4 linked regions of the Homo sapiens genome follow. The protein of the gene in region 1 interacts with the protein of each later gene in a pairwise test. Each region holds a gene or a part of one and is shown on either strand. Other genes may lie near its edges. The genes, in order: HERPUD2, EFNA5, NAF1 and TAS2R10.

Evidence for each region.
Region 2: the proteins of HERPUD2 (region 1) and EFNA5 interact in binary tests that used the Homo sapiens proteins (3 or more experiments, as listed by UniProt).
Region 3: the proteins of HERPUD2 (region 1) and NAF1 interact in binary tests that used the Homo sapiens proteins (3 or more experiments, as listed by UniProt).
Region 4: the proteins of HERPUD2 (region 1) and TAS2R10 interact in binary tests that used the Homo sapiens proteins (3 or more experiments, as listed by UniProt).

What each region holds. Positions count from the first base shown.
Region 1 is NC_000007.14:35,685,103-35,692,135, forward strand, and holds part of HERPUD2 (homocysteine-responsive endoplasmic reticulum-resident ubiquitin-like domain member 2 protein), read right to left. Parts: intron 1-7,033. UniProt on the Homo sapiens protein: Could be involved in the unfolded protein response (UPR) pathway.
Region 2 is NC_000005.10:107,380,938-107,387,970, reverse strand, and holds part of EFNA5 (ephrin-A5 isoform 1 precursor), read left to right. Parts: intron 1-199; coding exon 200-265; intron 266-655; coding exon 656-736; intron 737-6,594; coding exon 6,595-6,716; 3' UTR 6,717-7,033. UniProt on the Homo sapiens protein: Cell surface GPI-bound ligand for Eph receptors, a family of receptor tyrosine kinases which are crucial for migration, repulsion and adhesion during neuronal, vascular and epithelial development.
Region 3 is NC_000004.12:163,156,886-163,163,918, reverse strand, and holds part of NAF1 (H/ACA ribonucleoprotein complex non-core subunit NAF1), read left to right. Parts: intron 1-5,591; exon of another isoform or gene 5,592-5,694; intron 5,695-7,033. UniProt on the Homo sapiens protein: RNA-binding protein required for the maturation of box H/ACA snoRNPs complex and ribosome biogenesis.
Region 4 is NC_000012.12:10,824,716-10,830,520, reverse strand, and holds TAS2R10 (taste receptor type 2 member 10), read left to right. Parts: upstream 1-4,162; 5' UTR 4,163-4,251; coding exon 4,252-5,175; 3' UTR 5,176-5,302; downstream 5,303-5,805. UniProt on the Homo sapiens protein: Gustducin-coupled strychnine receptor implicated in the perception of bitter compounds in the oral cavity and the gastrointestinal tract. Signals through PLCB2 and the calcium-regulated cation channel TRPM5.

The sequences.
Region 1 (7,033 bases):
TGGTGGTGCATGCCTGTAGTCCCAGCTACTTAGTAGGCTGGGGTAGGAGGATCACTTTAGCCCAAGAGGCAGAGAGGTGAGCCAAGGTCGTGCCACTGTCCTCCAACCTGGCAACAGAGGGAGAGACTGTCTCAAAAAAAAAAAACAGAAAAGAAAACAGAAACATTATTAATTTTTTCATGTGCCTAAACTAGGTAAAAAGTAACACTTGGAATTTTTTTTGTTTTTTTTTTTTTTTGGAGATAGAGTCTTGCTCTGTCACCCAGGCTGGAGTACAGTGGCATGAGCTCAGCTCCCAGCAACCTCCGCCTCCCAGGCTTAAGCAATTCTCGTGCCTCAGCCTCCCGAGTAGCTGGGATTACAGGCGCGTGCCACTATGCCCAGCTAATTTTTTTGTATTTTTAGTAGAGACAGGGTTTCTCCATGTTGACCAGGCTGGTCTCGAACTCCTGACCTCAGGTGATCTGCCCATTTCAGCCTCCCAAAGTGCTGAGATTACAGGCATGAGCCACTGTGCCTGGCCGGAAATTTTTTATGCCATTAAAAAACTGCCTCTTCAGTTTAAATATCAATGAATTTAATTTAAATATCAGGGCTGGGTGCAGTGGTTCACGCCTGTAATCCCAGCACTTTGGGAGGCCCAGCTGGGAGGATCACTTGAGGTCAGGAGTTCCAGACCAGTCTGGCCAACATGGTGGAAACCTCATCTCTACTAAAAATACGTGGCAGCAGCAGGTGTGGTGGCAGGTGTGGAAGGCTGAGGCTGGAGAATCGCTTGAACCTGGGAGGCGGAGGTTGCGGTGAGCCAGGGTTGTGCCACTGCACTCCAGCCTGGACAACAGAGCGAGACCCTGTCTCTAAATAAATAAATAAATAAATAAATAAATAACTTAAATATCAGGAAAATCATGTGTTAGACCTAATAACAAATGACAATAATCAACTGAATTTTCAACTAGTTATTTTGGTATTGTAAGCTACAGCATTAGGAAAAGCAGAGACTTTGAGATCTCAACTCAATTTGACTTGTAAAAAGTAATATAATGTTATTTATCCAGCCCTGCTAATATCATTACCTTTTTCTTTTTCTTTTCTTTTTTTTTTGAGACAGAGTCTTACTCTGTCGCCCAGGCTGGAGTGCAGTGGCGCGATCTCAGCTCACTACAAACTCTGCCTCCCAGGTTCATGCCATTCTCCTGCGTCACGTCCCAAGTAGCTGGGACTACAGGTGCCTGCCACCACGCCCGGCTAATTTTTTATATTTTTAGTAGAGACGGGGTTTCACCGTGTTAGCCAGCATGGTCTCGATCTCCTGATCTCATGATCCGCCCACCTCGGCCTCCCAAAGTGCTGGGATTACAGGCGTCAGCGCAGCGCCCGGCCTAACATTATCTTTTAGCTTGATTAAAAACCCATTTCCACCCGGCTAAAACGGTGAAACCCCGTCTCTACTAAAAATACAAAAAATTAGCCGGGCGTAGTGGCGGGCGCCTGTAGTCCCAGCTACTTGGGAGGCTGAGGCAGGAGAATGGCGTGAACCCGGGAGGCGGAGCTTGCAGTGAGCCGAGATCCCGCCACTGCACTCCAGCCTGGGCGACAGAACGACACTCCGTCTCAAAAAAAAAAAAAAAAAAAAAAAAAAACCAAACCCATTTCCAGGCCAGGGGTGGTGGCTCACGCCTGTAATTCCAGCACTTTGGGAGGCTGGGGGGGGGGGGGTGGGGGGGTGGGGGGGGGCGCGAGTCACGAGGTCAGGAGTTCGAGACCAGCCTGGCTAACATGGTGAAACCCCGTCTCTACTGAAAATACAGAAAAATTAGGTGGGCAGGCGCCTGTAATCCCAGCTACTGAGGAGGCTGAGGCAGGACAATCACTTGAACCCAGGAGGCAGAGGTTGCAGTGAGCTGAGATCACGCCACTGCACTCCAGCCCAGACGACAGTGCGAGACTCTGTCTCAAAAAAGCAAACCAAAACAAACCCATTTCTATATTAGTTAGGGTAATGATAGTTGCTATAACAAATCCCAAGATCTCAGTAGCTTAACACAATAAAAGTTCATTCGTTTCTCAATTTAAAAAACATTGCATGGTACCCTTCTAATATAAGAATTCAGAAGACTCAGGGTTCACAAATCTAAACGTACTAGTTAAATTGTCAATTTAAAGATTCTAATGATAAGATACTGGCTCCACAGAGTAACATATAAATATAATTGGCCTCTCCATTACCACCACCACTATTCTTCCTGGTACTCACCCCTACATCCAATAGTCAGCAAATTCTATCAGGTTCACTACTTTCACCACCAATACTTCACCCTAAATGAAGCCTGGTCACAGATGGCAGTGCAGAATCAGCCAAATAATAAGACAAAGAACAAGTTGGAAACATCCTGATGTACTCTGAGTGGCCCAGAAACAGAAATATCCCACTTCAAATAAACAGCTGCTTAACTAGCTGGCCGAGAAAACCTCTGCTACCCACTTAACAGACATTGCTAAAAACCAAGGTGAGGAAAGCTCACTTGCTGGTATAACAGGTTAAAATAAGTCCTAACCTGGACTTTTTTGTTGTTTCTAAAAGGTTTATGTATATGCCATTATTGAAAGTGTCTGACCCTTTAATGTTTAACCAAATATCAGAAACAGATCAAATATCATACATCCTTAACACATTTAAAATATCTCCTGGAGTCTGATAAATGGGTTTAAAGCCAACAATACTTTTATATTTCAAGAAAGTCACCTAGTTAGTATCAAATGATTAAATTTTTTATGTCAAGGATTAAATGGGTCTTTCAATTATGTATGGCTTAAAAATCATGTTCCTAGTATATCCAACTTCAGCATAATCAAATTTCATATGCTAATTTAAAAATATTAATTAAAAATTTTAAAATATCTATCATCTTAATAGTTCAGTAAAGGCAATCTTCAACTTACAGGTTAGTTCAATGAACTATAATCTAGTCCTTTAAAAGTAGTAACTATTAAGTACTTACATATAGTTCAGTCACAAATATCAAATAGCTTTAAAGAGCTGGGTCCCAGGAAGTGCACAAAATATCATTTCTGTGGGAAATGAATTCTGTAAATTTGTACTAGAACACATCTCCTTCCCATTTCCCACTAAAAGCATCCAATCTAAAAACCCTGAAAATTCAGAAACACTATAAATAGAGGCACAGTCACCCAAACTGCCTCTACCCCTTATCTCCTTGCAGTAACAGTAAGCAAAACTGTACCTACAGAATATTACAGAGTAATGTTCTCTGGAACTCCAAAGAGATATTCCCAGCTTAACTGCTTCCACTCATGGGTAGAGATATATGATATTCACACACCAAGTGATGTACACCTCTGATGTTCAATAGAGCCTGTCAAAGTATATGACTATGGTTCACACCAACTGGTAGACTGTGAAGACAGGACAAAGATATGTGCGCTGCAGTCTTAAGATATTATGCATCTAATCTTTCCTATAATTTATCAGAATAAAGAGATATAACCACACATTAAGCTAAGTGTTAGCACCATAGTAAGGCTGTTATCCATTTATCTACAGCCTTTAGACAACAAACCAGCCAAACATATAAATCTCTTTTTATAGCTCAACTGGTTCTTTTTAGTTTACAAGTATATAACTGAGATGGCTGAGTCCCTAAATGCCTTTCTTCATCTTATTATACATAACCATCACATATGATGTGTACAGTAAGTCCAACCTGGGTTCAAATTCTAATTCCACTCCTTAGAGTCTGACCTAAGCAAAAAAAAAAATCACCAAGCCTCGGTTTCTTCATCTATAAAGTAGAGCTAATTATAAACCTTACATCATAAGAAGTCTAGGAGGAATATATGTGATAAAGCATATCAAATGCTTATTATAATGCCTGGTACACATGGCAAACACTTAGTAAATGGCAAAGTCAGAGCAGTTAAATAAAAGCATTCTAGACAATCAAAGCAGAATTTATTATGTTAAAAAAAGAAACTTAAGCTAAAAGTTCTACAAAAATTCTATCTGGAAAGTATTGAGAAATGATTAAACATTACCTTCATAATAATGTTATTATATTTTCCAAAAAGACATAAGGCTACAAATACATTAAGCAATAAAATTTTAGTGAGCAGTCATTCAAAACTTTTAGTCTGTTTTTCATCAACTTTCACATTCGATAGTACCCTTTGTTCAAAAGAGGTTTTAAAATCTTGAACTATATTCCCAGGCGACATGAAACCCTCTTAAATGTATTAAAATCTTATAAGACAATAGTTTTATAAAACAAAAATTATTTTGTTTATGGATTATAGCCCCTTTAAATCAACAATTCCAAAATGGTTAAACAAGTAGACTTTTTAAAATGACCTAAGTAAGGTAATAGGAAATTACAAAACTAAGAGAGATAAAATTTCAAATGATATAAGCTATTTCTACCTGTAATGAAAGTAAGACTTCTGATTGCAGGCAATTTGGTTATGGAGTGTTATAATCTCACAACAGAACCTATATATACAATTGGTTCTATTCTTGCTTCTTTAATTCTAATAGAATCTGAGAGTAAAGGAACAGTTTGAAAAAACAGCACAAACCTGCTTAACTGATCAGGAGAGGTAGATAAGAAAATGACTGCTTTGGTTTAACAGTATGAACAGCAAAGACAGAGGAAATCTGCCCAGAACTGAGGGACACAATCAGAGGTATTTTGACCCCAAGACTGAAAAATGGAGAGCCAAGCCATGCAAGCCCCAAAAAGGTTTGCCTTCAAAACTGAATTCAGAGTGAGTCAGGTCCATCTTAGTGACTGCTTGTTCATGAGAACAGATATAGTAAGAGAATGAGAAAGGTACCTAAGTGGACTTGGATATTCATATTTTTAAAATTTTTCTCTAGGATGATCCATCTATTATCAACCGTTTTGGTATTTACATCTATAATAACTAAGTCTAAACTCAGATTAAAGTCTGAAACTCAAGTAAAAGTGGTCTTCTTGCCAAGTATCTTCACCACCAAACAGCAATTACCTAAATTTTAGAATTATTTCACAGTGCAGCCCAATTTCAGGATCTGAAAAACTAGTCATGAAGTGATGTCAAATGTCATATTACAACTCACAATTATCTATATATTCTGTAATATAAACTAGTGCACTTCCCATTTCCTAAACCAAGTCTTAAACCAATTATCAATATCATTCAAAGTTAACTCCAAAACAGCTCAACTCCACATCCGAGGTTTTTAATTATGACTTTGTGAACATTTTCACAAATATGGCAACTGCCTAAATTCCTAACCAGAAAACACCTTTCCCTTCACAGATCATTAAGGATCTATAATCTTTTTACCTAATACTGTATTACTAAGTAATATACTAATATAAAACAAAGTCATCAGTGCAAACATTAACTCCAAAAGAATAGTTAAGGCCGGGAGTGGTGGCTCATGCCTGTAATCCCAACACTTCGGGAGGCCGAGGTGGGTGGATTACCTGAGGTCAGGACTTTGATACCAGCCTGACCAACATGGTAAAACCCCATCTCTACTAAAAATACAAAATTAGCCGGGCGTGGTGTCACATGCCTGTAATCCCAGCGACTTGGGAGGCTGAGGCAGGAGAATTGCTTGAAGGCGGGAGGCAGAGGTTGCAGTGAGCCGAGATAGCGCCATTGCACTCCAGCCTGGGAAACAAAAGCGAAACTCCGTCTCAAAAAAAAAAAAGAACGGTATAAAAAAGGAAGCTATCAGAGTCTGATTCTTGTCTGCTTAAAACTGTAATCAACTCTTTAAGAAAACTTAAATGTCCCCGTGAATCTTTTCTTGAAACAGCTACACATTCCCCTAACCCCTACTCCAGAGATGATCATTCCCTTCCTGTGTTCCTATGCAACACACAGAACATCCCTCCTGTATAATACTAGTCACATACTATTACGCTTATTTACTTACATGTCACTGGATCTGAGCTTCACAAAAGCAAAGGACTCTTACCATCATCTTCACACTTAGCATAAATATTCAAATGCTAGGCCAATAAAATCCTAGTTATATAAATAAATGAAGACCCAAAAAAATGTGCTTTGAGGGGGAGGGGTACATTTGTTCTAAGTTTGCTAGGGGAGGGAGAAGTGAATTTAATATACCCATATGGAGACTGTGATTAGTCAAATCAATATCTGACCATGAAGCTAGGATCCCAAGATTTTACAACTTCATAGAGTTCAGCCAGAATTCCATTAACAGCATATAGACATATGACCTATCTTTGTAGGATCCTAAAAGGACAATCTCAAATTTCCATTCTTTCCCCTCTAGCAGCACCAATTTATTTTCCTAGAAGCCACTGCCCACAGGAACAAAGTCCCTCCACCTACTCCTGACCCATCAGATCCAATTAGAGCAATGTTGATGAGAGCCATCAACTTTTTACTTACTGGGGCACTCCTGTTCCTACAAAGCACTGGAGCCCTACTCTGCTAAGTCCACACACTGATAATGAAAGTAGGCATATGTGCAAGGAAGATGCACAAGAAATTATCTCTGTTAAACATAACAGCACTTGAAAACTAAAACACAGAATCAATGTTTAGTCATTGCAGGCGGTCAGAAAAACCTAAACTTCCTTTATAATATTACTTAATAGCAAACTGTGCTGAATTCTAAATAATGACCTTACAAAGTAAACTTTTAGGACTCCAACTCCTATGCTGAGGACTACCTATGGCTTTGCGATACCATTAAACTGCTGCTCAACAACTGTGATGCTTCAAATCAATTCTCACGTGATAAGAATGTAAACTTACTAAATCTAGTAACTATACAAAGTTTTCAGTGAAATTCTATGACGATAAACACACATACCCCCACCGCTCCAGAGCTCCACCCACTCAACCTAGAAATGAAAGTCAGACATTACAATTCACTTAAAGAAAACTTGTCAAAGGAGAAAAAAAGGTTTGCCATGTTAATCATTAATAGGCTGCATAGTATTTGGTTTAGCCTCCAAAAGTGTCTCCAGTGTGGCTACAGGAGGCA
Region 2 (7,033 bases), on another chromosome or scaffold:
TCAGGATATGAAAGTAGCCTTTCTATAGCAGTGAGACCTGAAAAGTACTGTTTGTTTTAATTTGGAGGAGGAATTAGAGAAAGTTCCTGTTGTTCAAGTCAGGAAAGAATTTATTGTTCATCATTTGTATGTGAAAATGAAGAGTAATATGTTGTTGTTCTCTTCTTTCTTTCCTGCTCTCTCTCTGTGTTACCCACAGCCTCTGCAATCCCAGATAATGGAAGAAGGTCCTGTCTAAAGCTCAAAGTCTTTGTGAGACCAACAAGTAAGTTCACTAGAATGAGCTTCAGAGGGTGGCTTCACCGCGCATGCTTTATTGTGTGGTCTGGTTCACGGCGGTAAAACTTTTTTTTACTGTTAAATCTTGTGTGGTATCTGTTTTGTATATCAACATTCATATTTTAGTTTTCATCATATTTTTTCTCATTCTTCATGATGCTTTTACTTAAGTACACAGCAGTTGCTAACTTGTTGTTTCTTAGACTGTTGTACATGCAGAGCAAATGGGAACAATATTGGCATTTGGAACATGCCATTGATTGTAAGACAATCTACATAAAAAAAGAAAAAAAGGAGAGAAAGAAAAAAGAAAGAAATGGGAGTTTAAGGGTGTCTTCACTAACATATTTGGCTGTTATCTCTATTTTTGTTATAGATAGCTGTATGAAAACTATAGGTGTTCATGATCGTGTTTTCGATGTTAACGACAAAGTAGAAAATTCATTAGAACCAGCAGGTTAGTATGCTTAGAGAATCTCTTTTAACAAATGCATCTATTTCTCTGGTGCTTCCGTATTTTTTTCCTTTCTTCTTCTCTGCATGTTTGCATGTTATAGTTGTTGTTCTGCTTTTGCTCATTGCTAGCGATGCTAATATGACTTATATTCTACCTCATTCCTCCAGTATCTTTGTGCAATGCATGTTAGGTAAAATAAAATTTTCTTTTTTGGAATGGGTTTGAGCTAATGCAGTATCCTAATATAGAAGCCCCATCGGAATGCTAAAATCTCACTGCCTTTTACCATATCCTCAGAGCATGCTGGTGAATCACTGTGAATATTAAAGGATCTGTTTTCATGTAAGACACAAAACATTTCTATGTATATGTTCATAAAATTTTATTTTTTATGTCCAAATCTGTAGATAAAAGTAATAAGACTATTGCACAAAATAGAAACTAATTCAACATACTTAGTTTTCTCTAGAAATTTACATGCATCATTGAACTGACCTAAGGAACTTTATTTTATTTAAATATTTTTGCTATTGTCAATAGTAATTGGTCTGGAGAAGTATAATCACATTGCCACCACAAATTCGCACATCTCTTGTGCCACAAATGTACCAGTAGCCTGTTGAGCCAAATGTGATCCTTGATTACCGAGGCAAAATAAGTTTTAAGGATAAATAAAACTTTTCTACGATTGACTTCCACACTCCTAATGTTTCCCATAACTAAAGAAAAATAAAACCTACCAAAGCACTCGTTGAGGCATTAGTCTGTCGCATACTATGGATAATAAGAACCTGTAAATATCCATTCGGTTATCAATTCAGTCTGGCCATTTAATAAAACTAGATTAACTGAGAGGAGTGGTCGCCCTCTACCAACTGCTTATGGAGGGGTGTGCCTGGAGGCCCTGTGTGTTTCCTTCCTCTGTGGTGTCCTCTTCTCCCCGACCTGCTCCAGATCTTCACTGGTTTCCTTACCCATCTCCCTTGATCATCTCAAAGCTTAAGGGAAATAAAATTATTTCCTCTTCATGGAGAGATTTGAGCCCCCTTATGTAAATGGAGAATTTTTTTTTTTTTTTTTTTTTTTGTAGAATTTCTCTTCCTTATGGTCCTAGAAACTAACGGACATTAAGGTCCACTTTTTCCTCCAATATTGTAACCAGGACTGCATAGTCAATGAACCTTAGGGAAACTTACCCTGAGTAAATGCTGTGCCTCAGGACATACAATAGCTTTCCTGTTAAAACTGACAGGAAGAGTTAGAGTTTTTTCCCTGAAGCATTCTTGTTTTCTAAGGCAGGCATCTCACCCAGAGCGCAAATGAGAGGTGTGTACAATGAGCTCTCCGAGGTCTTAGTGGCTCCCCAGGGATCAGTTAGCTGCTTTAGAAAGTTTTAAGGAATGAATGCTGACATGAAGGCATTTTAATTGTGTCCTGGAAATCTGGAGCCATGACTTTGGCTTCTTAAGGTACCAGAGTCCTCACAAGCTCAGGGACTTGGGCCACCAGAGGATCTGCAAGTTACTCAGTATCTCCCTTAACAACCCCAGACTCTACACTCTTCCTTCTATGGCTGAGGAGACTCACCCATGCCACATTGCTGATTAGGTAGATCCAGGTTTAATACTCAGATCTTCTGACTCCTATTCCAACATTAGTATCAAAGTAGTGGTCTCTTACCATTATTAGAGGTATGTTCATAAAGAGGACTTAAGTCTCTTGTCTTTGTTAAGAAGCCACGAGAAGAATGACCAGCATGTTCTAAACAAAAATTACCCAGGATTATGATCTCTTGATACACATTGTGCAGAATGTAGGCATATCTTTCCCATGGTTTTTTTTCCAGGGAATCTCCACTGCCTGTCTATAGCATAGGAGGCTGCTTAGACACCTAACAGATTGCATATTTTTCTCTGGTAATGAAGAGGCACATGGAGGACTATTCTGCCATTAGGAAAATTACCTTTGAATTCCACTAACGATACAATGCAAGATATTGAGATGCTTTCATACATGAACATATACCACTGTCTTTGGGGAAACAAGGTTTTTTTTCACTAAGCATTTAAAATGCACAATGGCCCAAAATTGATGGACATATAACTGCTGGAAGTTTGCAAAAGTTTGGCAGAATGTAGTTCAGTGTGTGCATACGTGTGCTGGGGAGTAGAGCGTAGGTGTACATGCAGGAAAAGCTCCTTGAGTCAGTCAGAGCTATATTTTAAGGGCTTGCTGGTGAGTATCTTCACTAACAAAGTGAGACAAGGTTGAACCACAATTCCTGGCAATAAGAAAACAATAAGAAATGTGTTTCTTACAGGTGTGAGGCACTGTGCCTCACACCTATAATCCCAGCAATTTGAGAGGCTGAGATGGGTGGATTGCTTGAGGCTAAGAGTTTGAGACCAACCTGGACAACACTGTGAAACCTTGTCTTTACCAAAAAAAAAAAAAAAAAAAAAAAAATGTGGTGTGTGTGCCTTTAGTCTCAGTTACTTGGGAGACTGAAGTGGGAGGATTGCTTAAGCCCAGGAGTTCGAGGCTACAGTGAGCTATGATCACGCCACTGTGCTCCATCCTGGGTGACAGAGCAAGATTCTGTCTCTAAGAAGAGAGAGAAAGTCTAGTTGGATTTGCAGTTCTTCACCACTGTGTCGAGCCACTGAGTGAAAGGGTATTTACCTTTCCCCAGCTCTGGGTGTAGACCCAGTCTTTATGAACCCAGCAAGTCTGAAAGGATTCCACTGCATGATCTCAGCGATGTGTACTAATTCACCTGTCTTTGGAATGTATTTGTCTTTTTTGTTTGCTTGCACACTCTGCCTGCCAGTTTCCTATCATCAGGGATGCAGGATGATCTCAGGGCAGACATATGCCACATAACATGCTCCAAAATATCGCTAGTGTTCTCTCCGTTAACCATTGAAACCCCCATGTTGTGGAATCCTGTAGCCAGGAGGCAAAACTTGATTTGACTTCTGAAGAGGAACGTTTTCTTTCTTCTTCCAAGCCTGTGTTACAAGCGTTAGAAATTCTCTCATGTTTAGGTGTAGTTTCCATTGGGATAGATTTTACCTATGAATTCCTCCTTAGAATTCTGAAATTGCTCAGATTTACCCAAATGACAGCCAGTTTCTCATTTCACATTTGGGGGCTGTAGAATCTTCCAACATTGAGAACCTGTTTTAATCAAAGGATGCTTTGTGGAATCCTGAATGAGGAACAGCATGTTGCAGGAAGAAGAGAAGGATCCTGATGCCCTAATGGGACTGATTTCCTTTTGGGGGGCAGGAAGATATATATTCGTTGGGTGCTTATAAAAGGTTAATTCCAAAGATTGTGTATGGTTAAAGGACTGAAAGTCACACTTAGCCTCATACTTCACTTAGATGAAAAACAAAAGCCTTCCTCTCCATTACCTTGTAAGATCTATTCCTTGTGTCTTGTGCTGAGTGGACCTGGAATAATGGATAGCCCTCACTGAGTACCTAGAAGGGACTAGGGTGGTGATGAAGGGGTTCACACCGAAGATCTAAGTGCTAGCTGGGTACCTTTAACAGTACACTTGCAAGCTATACAAGGAGAAGGATTGGGTAATATGCTAGTAAAAATAAGATGGAGAGGAATCCAATAGCTGATGCAATTTCAGGTGTTTAAGTATGTGATATTGTGAAATGAACTCTGGAATCCTCAGGGTTTGTGGTTATTTCACAGTTAAGCCTGAAGTGCTCCATTGTTTTGATTGACAACATATTGGTGCTCTTAAGAAAGTGATTTGGATTTTAATTTCAGGGCTATTAAGGGCCTTTACTTCTACTTCCTATTAACTACAGATTTAATTAATACACTTGCAAGGCTGAAAAAGAGCAGAGAATAGAAGAGGGTCTGAAGGTACTTGGCCACATTGTGGAGGACTTTATATATATTTTTTCTGCATCCATTTATCTTACCATCTTGCTTCCTAACCTTTTCTAGTCTCCTAAGCTAAAATCACTCCATGCAGATTCGCTAAGGTCCAGGAAAGGGGAGCACATTTGACAAGGGGATGCAGTAGCTTTTATTCGAGGGGAGGCTAAAATGGTAAGAGCACTCCAGGTCAGGAGACTCAACACTGAGAAGACCTTTCTCATTGGGAATGGATGTGATGGACAAAACCATCCCAAACGAGCATATCTGAAGCAGGGGTCAGCCTGTGAACCTGAAAAGTGGTTACTTTAGGACAAATATTAGCGAGTGTGATTCTACCCAGTGAAGGAAAAGCACCCTTATTGTGACACGTGTGGTAGGAAAATACAAATGAGTTTAAAATAATGGTTAGTTAACCCATTAAGGGGTTTGAGGTGGGTCATCCAGGGGTATTTAGGGATTATCCTTTGAGGTCAGTATAATTGAGAACAACCACTAGAGCCTTGTTACCATTCTGTCTGGCCCTTGAGCAATTCCCAGATGGCAACTGCTGAACACCTGCAGGAAGTTACCCTGATGCTGAGATAAAATTTGCACAGGGGCTCACTATTGGCCCCCAAAATGTGTTATTCAGAGATCCTTAGTCTAAAAGCACAAGTGGCCAGGTATAGTGGCTCATGTCTATAATCCCAATCCTTTGGGAGGCCAAGGGAGGAAGTTGGTTGAGGCTGAGTTTGAGACTAGCCTGGGAAGCAAAGGAAAACCCTGTCTCTCTAAAAATTCTTAAAATTAGCCAGGCATCGTGGTTCACACCTGGAGTCCCAGCTACTCGGGAGGTTGAGGCAGGAGGATTGCTTGAGCCCAGGAGGTCAAGACTATAGTGAGCTATGATTGGGCCACTGTACTCCAGCCTGAGCAACAGAGCAAGACCTTACCTCTAAAAAAATATTAATTAATTTAACTTAATTAAAAGTAAATAAAAGCATAAGTTAGGTCAGGTGGAAAGAAGAAGACAGGCAGCCCTGGAGCAGAGCTTGGCTCCTAGGCAAGCCTCCAACCTCTCTTTGGTACTAATTGCTTCAGAGTTCCCATTTGGAAGTTAAGCCTGTTAATCATGCAGATCAGGAAGGCTATCCAAAGTCAGAGGCAGCCTCATAGAACACTTTATAGCTAAATAAAAGAAGCTTAACTCACTTAATCTATTTTATTTAGAGGAAAATTTGCATCCACGCTGATAATTTATGTGCCAAGCTTCAGCCCGATAAAAATAAAAATAGTCAAGTTCAAGTAATTTAATCTTAGAAATACAGGGTTTGTAATAGAAATAGCACCATAATTGACACCTAATTGCAGGCAAACTAGTGGGCATACGTTTATTGAAGTTTACTAGGCATGATGTATAGTTTATCCAAAATGCTGCTGTTTTGGCATTTAGTTTTTCATGTTTGAAAATTCGTCTAGGCATCCAACAACCAGGCATTCAACACTAATCCTATGAAACAGCTAAAAGAAGGGAAATGGGCAGCGCATTCTGGTTAACCACTACTGTGCCAACATAACTGCCCCTTCCCCCACCCCCACCAACATGTCACTTGCTTGCCTGTGACATCTTAGGTTTCAAAGGTACATTCAGATATCTGAAATTTGTGCAAGGCGTGTCTGACTGCTGGCTAACCAAAGCAGCTCACAGGCCAAAGGTTACGGTGTATGCATAATTTTTCCCCTCAATTTTTAAGGAAAGTATTAATATTGCTGAGAAAGTCCAATTTTCTTTGCCTCTTCTTTGTTTGCTGTAAATAATGAGTGATTATGCAGACATGAAAGTCAATGGTGGCACAAGGTTCATTACCCTACTTTGCAGAGGGTGGCGAGGTCTGTTAACAGCAGGCTGCTGCAAGAGAGTTATTAAGGATGTGAAATCTCATTGGAATGTGTGCTTTCTATTTGAACAGATGACACCGTACATGAGTCAGCCGAGCCATCCCGCGGCGAGAACGCGGCACAAACACCAAGGATACCCAGCCGCCTTTTGGCAATCCTACTGTTCCTCCTGGCGATGCTTTTGACATTATAGCACAGTCTCCTCCCATCACTTGTCACAGAAAACATCAGGGTCTTGGAACACCAGAGATCCACCTAACTGCTCATCCTAAGAAGGGACTTGTTATTGGGTTTTGGCAGATGTCAGATTTTTGTTTTCTTTCTTTCAGCCTGAATTCTAAGCAACAACTTCAGGTTGGGGGCCTAAACTTGTTCCTGCCTCCCTCACCCCACCCCGCCCCACCCCCAGCCCTGGCCCTTGGCTTCTCTCACCCCTCCCAAATTAAATGGACTCCAGATGAAAATGCCAAATTGTCATAGTGACACCAGTGGTTCGTCAGCTCCTGTGCA
Region 3 (7,033 bases), on another chromosome or scaffold:
GCTTTTTTTTTTGGTCTGCACGTCAGAAAATTTTGCTCAATAGCAATTGAAATTTCAATAGCAATTGAAATCAATTTTTTTGGTCTGCACGTCAGAAAATTTTGCTCAATAGCAATTGACTTTTTAATTGACTGCATTTAGAGAAGTAGAAGATGAAATTCAGAGGGTTGAACTTGTTAGGATTCCTATTGAAGTTTTTGGAGTGTTTTTATTATTACAGTTGGAGAAAACTTGTTAATTGTAGAATGGTATTTATTGGCACTCGATAGGTTTGGTTTGCAAAGTTAACTCTTGCAAGGTTATTTCCTCTTATGCTGTAAACATCCTTAGGAGGATGATGTTAGTCTGATTGAAACCTATGACCCAAGAGGAAAGCCTTCTCAGAATTTCAGAATGTAGGCCATATTATCACATTGTTTTTTTTCTACCCCTGCATGTAGTTTTAATTATTAATGCTTTAAAAATATTTAATGGTCACTAATCATAATTCTTATATAACACTTAAATTGATGAGATAGTTTAATGCAAGATTTGAAAAAATAAATTAAAGCCTACAGGCACTCAGGAGCCTTTTTCATGAATGGATTCTGCCAGTCTGAATTATTTCTCTTTTTCTCTACTCATAACAAGAAATTCTCGTCTCGCTTATGCTTTATAACTTGAAGACCTTTGGATTTGTATGCAGCTTCATCAGTGGCTCATATTTTCATGCTACAGATATGTTAATATTTCTTAGTGGTCTTTGTACACAAAGGCTCCCAGCATAACTATTTTCTGAAAGTAGGAGACTTGTTTGGTCTTTCTTGCTTGTCTCTTGATCATTTTTCTACATAATTTCCTTATTAGAATATAATAACGAACAAAGAAAAGACCACAGTACTTCTGTAAATGCATACATATCATTGTCTTACTAGATTTGCAATTCTTACCTTGGGAATTTCTTCCAATTTAATGCAAAGTCTTAGCATATTTGTTTAGGTATTTTTCTGAACAGAATGTCCCTGTTTTCATCAGAAGATCAAAAAGGATTTGTGGCCACAAGGAGTCCAAGAACAAGTTCTTTGAGGACTGAGTTCATATGTGATCCTTGTAATTCCCATAGTCCCCAGTGGAGTGCTTTATAGATAATGGGTTCTCAGGCCAAAGTAATACATGATTATAGAATGAGTGTGTGAATAGGCATTTTATATTTATTAATTCTTTAAGAAATTATTATAGCACACCTGCCATTTGCCAGGTGCTGTAAACAAGACCAGTCCAGTTTCTGCTCTCATAGTGTCTAATGGAGAGACACAGACAGTAAATAAAGTGGAGACAAATAAATTTAATTGCTAAAAATGCTATTGAATTGTGTAAGTGTATGTTTGCCTCGAAAGACAAAATTCCATTTGAATGTTATTAGATTTTCAAACTTGGAATGATGGGTTGGTCTGTTCCTCTCTGTGACCATTTCAATGGATCTTTGGGAATGATGGAAGAGGCAATTATAGTCTTTATTTGGGAAACTTATTAGAAGTCCTTCAGACCACTGTGCTGCTAGAGATAGGTAGAGGAATTGATGAGTTTCCCAGTCTGCCCTAAATCTCTGGCTTACAGGTCTGAAAGAAGATATAAGGACTTCTTCGGGGTTTCAAATCTTAAGTTTGGGGGAAAAGAATGACTTTGTCCTGAGTACTAAGGATAGTGTATAGTTACAGGTATGTAGTGTGTTTAGGAGTCTGCCTCTTTGTCCGTTTCTCAGGGCTGGCAGTTTTACCACTGATAGACTCTTGCATGAAAGTCTTGGAGTTGACTTTTGCTGGCTTATGGTCTGTTAACACAGCCTTGAACAGATCATTGAGGCTAGTGGAATGGGTATTCAGATTGCTTGGCTGTGAGTCACATAGTCACTCCTGTTTGTGTAGGCGAGTGTGTAGGAGAGAGTGAGGAGAGCATGTGTAGGAAAATGAACACTTGAAAGAGCACATGGGCTAGTGCGAGAGGGTGGGAGTGCGTAACAGCCAGTTGACAGAAAGGGAGTGTGAATGTGTATGTATTGTGAGGAGGGTGGGATGTTGGGTGTAATATCAGCCCTATATAAACCACATGGAATGGTTTATCTTTCACAGGAAAGGGAGCTTATATCCATTCCAAAAGGGGATGCTGGGCAGACAGTAACAACGGATTATACTCACTAGAGGGAAAGGGAAATACTTGGAAGTGATATCATGTACGACTTATGTTGGACTCATTGTTAGGAGGAGCAGAGACTCATATTACCTCAGGAGAAATGGAAGTTTATTCGAAAGCAGCTGGGAACTAAGGCAGCTGTGAAGGCTAGTCACACTGTTTCTTTTACATGCCTCTGGATAGTCTCACAGTTCTCTGGCATTTTATTCTTTCATTATTGGTTGGCTTCCTCTGTTTATCTATAGATTTGTTTTTTGGTTTTTTTTTTTGGTGAGGGGGGACAGAGTTTCGCTCTTGTCGCCCAGGCCGGAGCCCAGTGGCCGATCTCGACTCACTGTAACCTCCACCTCCTGGGCTCAAGCTATTCTTCTGCCTCAGCCTCCCAAGTAACTGGAATTACAAGCGCCCACCACCACGCCTTGCTAATTTTTTTATTTTTAGTAGAGACAGGGTTTTGCCATGTTGGCCAGGCTTGTCTCAAACTTCTTACCTCAGGTGATCCACCTGCCTCGGCCTCCCAAAGTGCTGGGATTACAGGCGTGAGCCACCGTGCCTGGACAGATTGATCTTTTTAATTCTAGCTTATACATGGATTTCAGTATCTCTGGCTCTAAAAATGGCATCTTTTGCTTTCAGTGTCCCATGAACTGGCTAATTAGTGTTGTATTTCCTTGCTTGCTTTTGGGACAATTCTGTTATTTAGCTTAGATTTTTTTTTTTTTTTTTTTTTTGGAAAATGACAGTCCATTCTTTCTGGGAAGCATCTCCTCTCCACAACTATTCCTAGCTTGTGTGGTATGTGCCATTTTGTTCAGGCCTCTTGATATGTCACTTAGACTTTTAGGCAGCAGAGGTTGTGTATCTTAGCTAGATGGAGCTTCAAGCTCTATGTGGTCTATTAACTATCTAATGAAATTCTGAAGAAAATTAATGAACTTTTCTGCCAAAAGATATACACAAATTAAAGTGTGCCAAACAGTTAAAACCAATTTTAGAATTTGTGCTGGACCTTCAGGGATCTGGACATAGACATGCCCAATTTAGCCCAGTTTAACCCAATTTTATGTCCAACCACTTTCTAAAGAGTTTTCTAGCAGTTTCCTATTGTCACTCAGGCATGCTTAGCTTAATTTTTACCTCCATTTAGTCTGTGCTTCAAGCAGGAATGTCGCCTCTCTGGATCTATCCCTTTAAATCTTTCCATTGTGGGTTGTTCGATCTCTGCGATCTAACTATGTACAATGCAGATCTTTAGGTAGATGAGAACTACAGTGAAATAACTTTATGATTGTTCTTAAACCTTAGAAAGATATAATTTTTAAAATTAGGTTATAACCAAATCTTGCCATCCCAAGATGTGGTTATAACCCAGTTTTTTGTTTTTGTTTTTGTTTTTGTTTTTTAATGTGAGGGTACGTTAAGGGGGAAGAGAATAAAAGAGGAATTAGCGAGCTATAGTGGCAATGAAAAAGGAGAGTCTTAAGTGGCTCTCTTCATAATGTCACAATTAATAAGTTTAACTAGATAAAATTATTCTTTTAAACATAAATTCTTTTTTAATGCTCAGAAGGTTTATATATAACCTACACAGTCACTGTAAGCAGCATACATATTACAGCTTTGGAACTACGTTGAGCCACATAGGATGTATTTAGTGTTTTGATGAATTGGAAAATTGAGATTCTTTTTAAACAATTTTATCAGCAGTTGATGCTCTGAACTCTTCATTCAAATGTATCAAGTGTAATTAAAAATGTAGGGTCATAAAAATATTTGGGATTATAATTTTTAAAGTCTTAATCAGAAATGAGTTTTATAAATTAGTGCCCATTGTTTTCTGAAAACCTGAAAGGCTTCACATAACATTTAAAAATTATTAGCACAATGTTTATGGAGATAAGAAATGGATAATACTTCAGTAGGGATAATAATGTGTCTTTAGGCATATAATGTAGCATGACCAAGAAAAAAATTAATGCTTATTGGCAATTTTGGGGGAAATTTAGCTGTCATACTTTGGTGACTGCTTATTTTATAAAATAAGTACGTTTGGTAGTTAGGTTGAGTACACTCTATTCTCCTGATTGTGGCAGTGTGGACACATTCTAAAATGTCCTAACGTGAATGTATGGAAATATCTGGACCACTCAAGTGGTTGGAAGTTGCAGTAGAATATTTCATGCCTGTTTGATCTCCCATCATATATGAAATTGTATTGCATCTTGGTCTACACTTAGTAATTATCAATTGAATATATTGTTTTCTAGGCATAAGTTGGTTTATAAATTTTGTCCTGAATGCAGGCCTCTTTTAACTTAGGTTTTTATTACTATATGTATATTTGGAACTATTAAATTCTATTTTAGAATACACTTTGATAGCACTTATTAACATTCTTCCCAAAGTGCTTGTTATTTAAGCAATGGTTTGTATACTTAAGATCATTTTTCATTAATATTCACTAGTGTTCTTCAAAAATAATTAATACTCAGGGTTTTTTAAATTAAAGTTTTATATCTTACAGAATATTTCAATAAAGCTTACATGAGGCATGAATGATTTCATAAACATGAAATAAATACTGTTTTATTCAGTAGAGTATCCATTTATGTCCTGTGTATATACATATATAATTATTATTACACAGAAACATTCAATTGTTTAGATTCCCCCATTCCTCAGTAGTTTCTAATAAGTGAATTCTGCTGATTGCTTTAGAAGATAAAGACAAATATCTGTTAAAGAGCAATGGAACTAGAGAATGAGCATATACACTTTAGCTGAAAGCAAAGTAGCACCAGAGAGTTAATGGTTGAATGTCAGATGAATGGTGTACTGCACATAAGAAGTGATAGGATTGAGTGGAAGGGGAGGTAATAAGGATTTCTGAAAAATTTAGGCTAATACTCTGTGGCATTTTACAATTATTTGGCAGTCTTTTTATCTTAGTGATATAAAATCAGTGTCTTAAAGTTGATGAAATATGCACTCAATTAACATGAAAGATAGGCTTAAAGTTATATTCATTGTTGGAGGTTTCTTATTGAGATGGACTATAGTTTTATATTTAAGCAAATTAAATTTTGAAAGTATTATGAACTTTGTTTCTCTTAACAGTAATTTTAGAGAAAAACAGGATAATAATGTATTCATTTAAAAAAGAAAAATATCAAGACACTTCAAAGAAATGTTGACCCTCATTTTTTAATTGACTTGTCTGAGTCTTAAGTTTAGTGTCATACACAATAGGGTAATTAATGAGGGGACTAATGCTTACTGGTGATAAATAGCTGAGTTTCATGGAAACTTGTAAAATTACTTCCCCTGAAGAAGTTAATGAATTAGAATACATGTTAAGTATGGTCATAGTTGACACAAAGTGTACAGACCTAATCCATTCTTTTTCCAATATGTTTTACCAGCTATAGAGAAAAAAAAAATTCAGTCATGGCTCTCAGTACTCCAGGGATTGGATCCTACTTTCCAACCATATCTGAAAAGTGAAGGCTCACCTAATAGCATCAGGTAATTGGCTGCCACGTGCATGTCCTGTGTTGGGTAATATGAGAAAAGTGGTTAGATAATTTCATCCCACCTTCCTCACTTTTCTCAATTCTCCCCAAACTGACACCAAAAAGGTTTAGTTTTCATTTGGAATGTTTGATTCCTTCTCCCACCAACCTCTGTTGTCCTTTTTCCATATTTGTGAGTGAAAATCCTACTGAAAGTTCTTTATATAATTTTACTTTAGAAAGTCATCAATTTACTGATACTCTTTTTTGCTCAATAAGCCTTCACAAATGCTTGAAAAGTCAACAGTGTTGTAAATTATAAATGTTACCTTTTCAGAGGGCCACTTTTGACATATTAGCTTCTTCCATTTTTGCATTGAAAGTTTTAGGCACCCATTTTTTGACTGGTATGTCTATAACCTCATTTTTAATAGGATGGATTTTTAATGTTATGTGGTACTCTTTTGAATATTTTGCTTAACTGAATAACCTTGTAGACCATACAGATGTTAGAAAATTAAAATATAATAATCTTACAAAACAGACAATAATTGCTCTTTCATGGATATTCCAGAAGTGTGGTTAGGATCTTGCATTTCTTTAATGCCATCGTTACGAGTATCTGTTATCACAGAAGCACAGTAATTTTTTTATTGGGATCTAGTATATAATTTCTGTATTAATGTGTTGTCTTTTTGATTACATGCAGTTGGACATTTAAATTGTCGTTAGCCATTTGTGTAACTGTTTAGAACTTGTGCTCAGTTTCCTTACTATTCGTAGGTAAGAAAAATGAAACCAGAAAGAAAGAGACTTGTCTGAAGTCATATTAGTGGGGAGGAGCAGATCTGAACTGGTAATAGATACATTCCAAACTGCTGTGTTTTTAGTATTTGTGGAGACCTGCATAGCAACGTTGGAATCTGGTCGTTTGGACTTTCTCATTATTTGGTTTCTGAATAATCATGTAGCATATTTTCTCAAAGTGAAGGATGAATGTATCATCTAATGTAAGCTTTTTAAAATTGTATTTGCTTGGATTATATTGCCTCTCAATAAAGCTTTTGACTTGGAACTGTGTAGTGTGTGGGAAATAAATGGTGGAGCTTCTTTAGTATGTTGAATTTTAGTAGTTCATTTGCGAAATGCTGTGGTGTTTGGGGATGTTTATTTCCATGCAAGCTTTTCATTTGCTAATGATGTGAATGAAATAGTTTTCTTCCTTTCCTTTCCTACTCTTTGTTATGTGTAGAAGTATTGAATAAATGAGTCCAGAAAAACTTTTTGCTGTTCTTTGATTTTTTGTTAGTAAACATTTACAAAAATTTCATTTGTATGATAAAATAGTTATT
Region 4 (5,805 bases), on another chromosome or scaffold:
AAGAGGTGTGAATAAGTTGTAATCCACTCATTCAGATCTACAGAAGGTGGATGTTAGAAATTTAACAGAAGTAAGCAAAATAGAATGAAAACCACTTATTTCCTCTAGGTAACAATCTTGTCTCTGTAATAATATGGATTTAGCCAGTTACTTTATGTTTTTTGTTTGTTGTTTGTTTGTTTTGAGATGGAGTCTCACTCTGTCGCCCAGGCTGAAATGCAGTGGCACCATTGTTTTTGTGAATATTTTTGCTGCTGATGTAACTGCAGAAATTAGTCTAGAACTTGTGGAAGTTGTTAAAACCCTTTCATAAGAGCCCAGTTACTATTGCACAATCTAAGGCATGTAGAGTTAACATACCTAGAATGCACATCAAAATGGTCATTAATCTCATTCATGAGAGGTCTGCCCTCATTACCTCCTAAAGGAACCATCTCTTAATACTGGCACACTGGCAATTAAGTTTCAACATATAGACTTTGGAGGAGACACATGCAGATCACAGCAAAGGGGTTTTTAAATCTTTGCTATGCCTATCACTTGCTTTAGTTCTGTTAATTTTGCTTTATTTATTTTGAGTCACAATTATTAGTCTGATACACCTTCAGGATTGTTAAGTATTTTTGATAAATTGAATATTTTATCATTATACAACTTCCCTCTATTTTTCTACTACTTGTCTTGATAATATAGCCACTTTGAGAATAGAACCAGTCCTGCTTTCTATGGTTACAAATTCCATAGTATAGCTTTTTCTTTCCTTTACATTCAATCTATCTGTGCCTTTATGTTTAATGTTTTATCTTCTAGGCATAACATTTAATTGTGCTTTCATTTATTCATTCTGATGATCTCTATCTTTTCATCAGAGTGTTTAGTCAAATCATGTTTAATGTAATTATCAGTATGGTTGGCTGTAAGTCTTGCATTTTGCTCAATGTTTTTCATTTATCTCACTTATTTTTGTCCCTCTGTCCTTTTTCTGGCTTTCTTTTGTGTTAATTGACTGTATCTTCAATTATTTCATTTTAATCTCACAATTGGCTTTTAAAACTCCATTTGTTATAATGAATTATTCTTTTATATATCGCTGGACTCTATTTTGTTTGGAATTTTTGCATCTATGTTCAGGCTATATTAGCCTGTAATAGTCTTATAAGTATTCTTGATGAAATTTTGTATAAAGTTGTTCACAGTATTGTCTTATAATAAAAGATTATATACAAGGATATGTAACTATATTATATAGTATTATATATATATATATATGTATATGTATATATATATATGTATATATATGTATGTATAGAGAGAGAGAGAGAGAGACAGAGAAAGAGAGAGAGAGAGATGAGGTCTCACTCTGTCACCCAGGCTGGAGTGCAGTGGCCCAATTATAGCTCACTGCAAGTTCAAACTCCTGGGCTCAGGCAATCCTCCTGCTCGGCCTCCCAAGTAGCTGGGACTACAGGTGCACACCACCATGCCCTGCTAAATTATTTTTATTTATTTATTTTTTTTAGTAGAGATAAGGTCTTGCTATGTTTCCCAGGCTGGTCTCAAACTCCTGGACTCAAGTGATTCTCACACCTGGGCCTCCCAAAGTGCTGAAATGACAGGCATTAGCTACCACACCCAGGCCATATTTCTGATATCTCTAAGGACTGTAGTAATTTGTATTTTCTTTTGACCAACATTAGTATATTACTGTACCTAATTCTTTTCTATCGGTGATTTCTGCTGTTACTATAATTTCTTGACTTCTATTTTCTTTCACTCTTAGCTTTCTAGCTTCTTGAGATGAAAACAAAATTCATCTGTTTTTACCCTGCCTTTCTAAAAGATGCATTCAAGGCTACAAATTTCCTTCAAAGAATGGCTTTAATTGGATTATGTAAATTTTAATAGGTCATTTCTTTATTACACGTTGAGTATCCCTAATCCAAAAATCTGAAATTTGAAATGCTCCAAAATCTGAAACTCTTTGAGCGCTGACATGACGCTCAAAGGATATGCTCATTGGAACATTTTGGATTTCAAATTTTTGAATTCGAGATGCTTAATCAGTATGATGCAAATGTTCCAAAACTTAAAAAAAAAGAAAAAAAAATCCGAAATCCAAAGCTCTCTGGTCTCACACATTTCAGATAAGGGATACACAACCTGTATTATTTACTTAAAAATATTTTTGTAATTTTTGTTATTTCTTCTTTGACTCAAGAGTATTTACAGGTTTTTTGTCTTAGTAAATTGTTTCTTTCTCTAGTTATCTTTTTATTATTGAACTTCATTTTATTCCTTTGAATTCAGAGAACATTCAACACTTGTGAGATATTCTTTTGGATTCATGATCAGTCTTGGTAAAAATAGTCTATGTGCACTTGAAAAGAATATGAATTATTTTACCGTTGAACACAAGTTTGTCAATTGTTTTTTCATGTATTTTCCATCTATTGATTTTTGGTGTTTCTAAGATGAGTTATTGAGTTATGTATTTTACAGTCTTTCATTGTGATTGTAGATTTGTCTTATTTTTCCTTTTCTGTAAATGTTTGGTAGATTATTTGGTTCATAAATTTTTGGGATTACCCTACCTTTCTGTAGATTTGAGCATTTTTATCACTATAAAGTACACTCCCCATTTCTTCTCTAATGCTGCTTCTTACCTTAAAGTCTGCTTTATAGAATATTGTTATAATTATGCCAGATTTCTTTTGGATGATGTTTGCATGGCTTATTTTTCCATAATTTTACTTTAAAGTTTTCCTTTTCTATATTTAAATTGTGTTTCTTGTAAGCAGTATACAGTCAGAGTTTTAAATTCTTCTTTGTTACTATTAATTTTTTACTTGGAGTATTTAGTTCATTTACATTTTATATAATTATATTCTCCATTTCTAGAAGTTTTTTCCCCAAATGTTCCAATTTCTTTCTAACAGTCTCTTGCTGCTCTTCTCTGAAATTGCATCTTGTTTTTTGTAAACAGTGTATACATTAGCTAATTTATCTATACATATTCTTATCTGTCAATTTCAGTATGTGCAGCCCATGAGAATTTAAGTTTTCTACTTGCTTTTGGTTGGTTTGTTTTGTTTTGCTATCATTTGTAGTCTATTCCTAAGCTTAATTTAACTTCATTTTGAAATCATTGTGCAATTTTATTTATGGTAGTCATGCCAGGATAAGTGAGAGAAGGTCTTCTTTTCTCCAAAGCTTAGTTTATTCATATTTAATGTAAATACAAAAATAGCCCCTCTTTTAAAGGATTGAAGGCTTGTGAAATTAAGATGAGAAAAAGATACTTAACATAGCGCTAGGAATATAATAAAAGCTCAATAAATGTTAGATTTCACTTTTAATTTCACTTTTAATTCTTAGATCAGTATGTTGATTTACTTAATTGTTTCCCACCTCCCTCATTAGAATATACACTCCATAAATCACACAAGTTTTGAAATTCTGTCTACCACTATATTCCCTCAAAGATCAAAAGAGAGCTTGTTGTATCTAGACATTCAGTAAATACTTGTTGGATAAATGAATGGGTGCCAGCAAACAGTAATGTGTTAAATGAAGAGATTATTCCTAAGAGCCTTTCATGTCAAGGGTAGTCAACATAATCTTCTGCATTCAAGGGTGTAATAACCATAAGTATAAAACAACAGCAACAGATTTGTGACATATTTGTGAAACTTGTCATACCTAGAGTTGAGCTTAAATTTTAATTAAAAATTAAATCGATCATTTAGAGTAAGTATCTACAGTGGCTAAATTTGTTTTTCATTTCTATATAGTATTTTCTGTACATATATAAATTGATTATAAATGACATAAATAATGATTTGATATTTTAAAAGATAAAGTCAAAATTTTTGTTTCTGTTTTGCATTACATTCTATAGGTATATGTTTGGCACTCCTCCTCCACAATTCAATTTATTAAATGCAAAATAGTCTCAGGAGGACATGTAAAATCCATGAAACAGAAACTTTCATTTGCATTTTAACAAATTATAGATAGGCATTCAGTCTGAACATACATTCTCCAGACTAGCTATGTTTTGTAGACATATTTGGAAAGGTCTTCATTAAGAAATTTCTGATTCCATCTCAAGCCATTACTGGGGCAATTTCAAGTCTTTATATAATGAAAGAGAAGAAAGTCACACTTCCGTCGAGCAGCCAATATATGCCTCATTCTGCAGCAGGTAATCTAAGATAGATGTAACAGAAGCAATATTAAGAATTAGCAGATATGCTACGTGTAGTGGAAGGCATCTTCATTTTTGTTGTAGTTAGTGAGTCAGTGTTTGGGGTTTTGGGGAATGGATTTATTGGACTTGTAAACTGCATTGACTGTGCCAAGAATAAGTTATCTACGATTGGCTTTATTCTCACCGGCTTAGCTATTTCAAGAATTTTTCTGATATGGATAATAATTACAGATGGATTTATACAGATATTCTCTCCAAATATATATGCCTCCGGTAACCTAATTGAATATATTAGTTACTTTTGGGTAATTGGTAATCAATCAAGTATGTGGTTTGCCACCAGCCTCAGCATCTTCTATTTCCTGAAGATAGCAAATTTTTCCAACTACATATTTCTCTGGTTGAAGAGCAGAACAAATATGGTTCTTCCCTTCATGATAGTATTCTTACTTATTTCATCGTTACTTAATTTTGCATACATTGCGAAGATTCTTAATGATTATAAAACGAAGAATGACACAGTCTGGGATCTCAACATGTATAAAAGTGAATACTTTATTAAACAGATTTTGCTAAATCTGGGAGTCATTTTCTTCTTTACACTATCCCTAATTACATGTATTTTTTTAATCATTTCCCTTTGGAGACACAACAGGCAGATGCAATCGAATGTGACAGGATTGAGAGACTCCAACACAGAAGCTCATGTGAAGGCAATGAAAGTTTTGATATCTTTCATCATCCTCTTTATCTTGTATTTTATAGGCATGGCCATAGAAATATCATGTTTTACTGTGCGAGAAAACAAACTGCTGCTTATGTTTGGAATGACAACCACAGCCATCTATCCCTGGGGTCACTCATTTATCTTAATTCTAGGAAACAGCAAGCTAAAGCAAGCCTCTTTGAGGGTACTGCAGCAATTGAAGTGCTGTGAGAAAAGGAAAAATCTCAGAGTCACATAGACACCTTGGGAAGAGATGGATGTTCCACGAAAGGAATCCAGTGAATAAATCCTTGAAGATCTGTTTCATTGCACTGCATTCTTGCATTGTCTTTTTAACTGTGTCATTAAAGATCACTGAAATCTTCCATAATTGTTTTGACTATGTTTCAGGGAATCTCAGTCTTTGAGGAGATTTTAATCTCACATGCAAATTCAGTGGCTTAGTCAGCTTCCCCACCCTGCAACTTCTTCCTACAAACTTCCTAGAGGAAGACCATCAGCCTGGAGACTATTCGCTGTAAAGATTATAACGGTGAGAATAAGCTCTAAAATAAAACTTCTTGTTGTGCTTTACCTGACTTTTCTGAAGCAAGGACACCCATTCTCCCAGAAAACCCAAAGGAAAAAAAAGAAAGAAAGAAAATTAGATCAATCTTGACATTTAGAACATGGAAGTGAGGATAGATGGTGGTACTTCTTTACAGAATGCTATTTTAATTATTTAAAGGTTTTTTTTTCATTTTTTAGAATCTAACATCCTTTTTTACTGGTGTACGATGTGTAGCAAGTAGTCAGAGGAGTAGATGTAGTTCTGTGAAATATAGTTAGGGAAACAAGGGTCTAGTTGAGGGATATGGGATCAAAACAC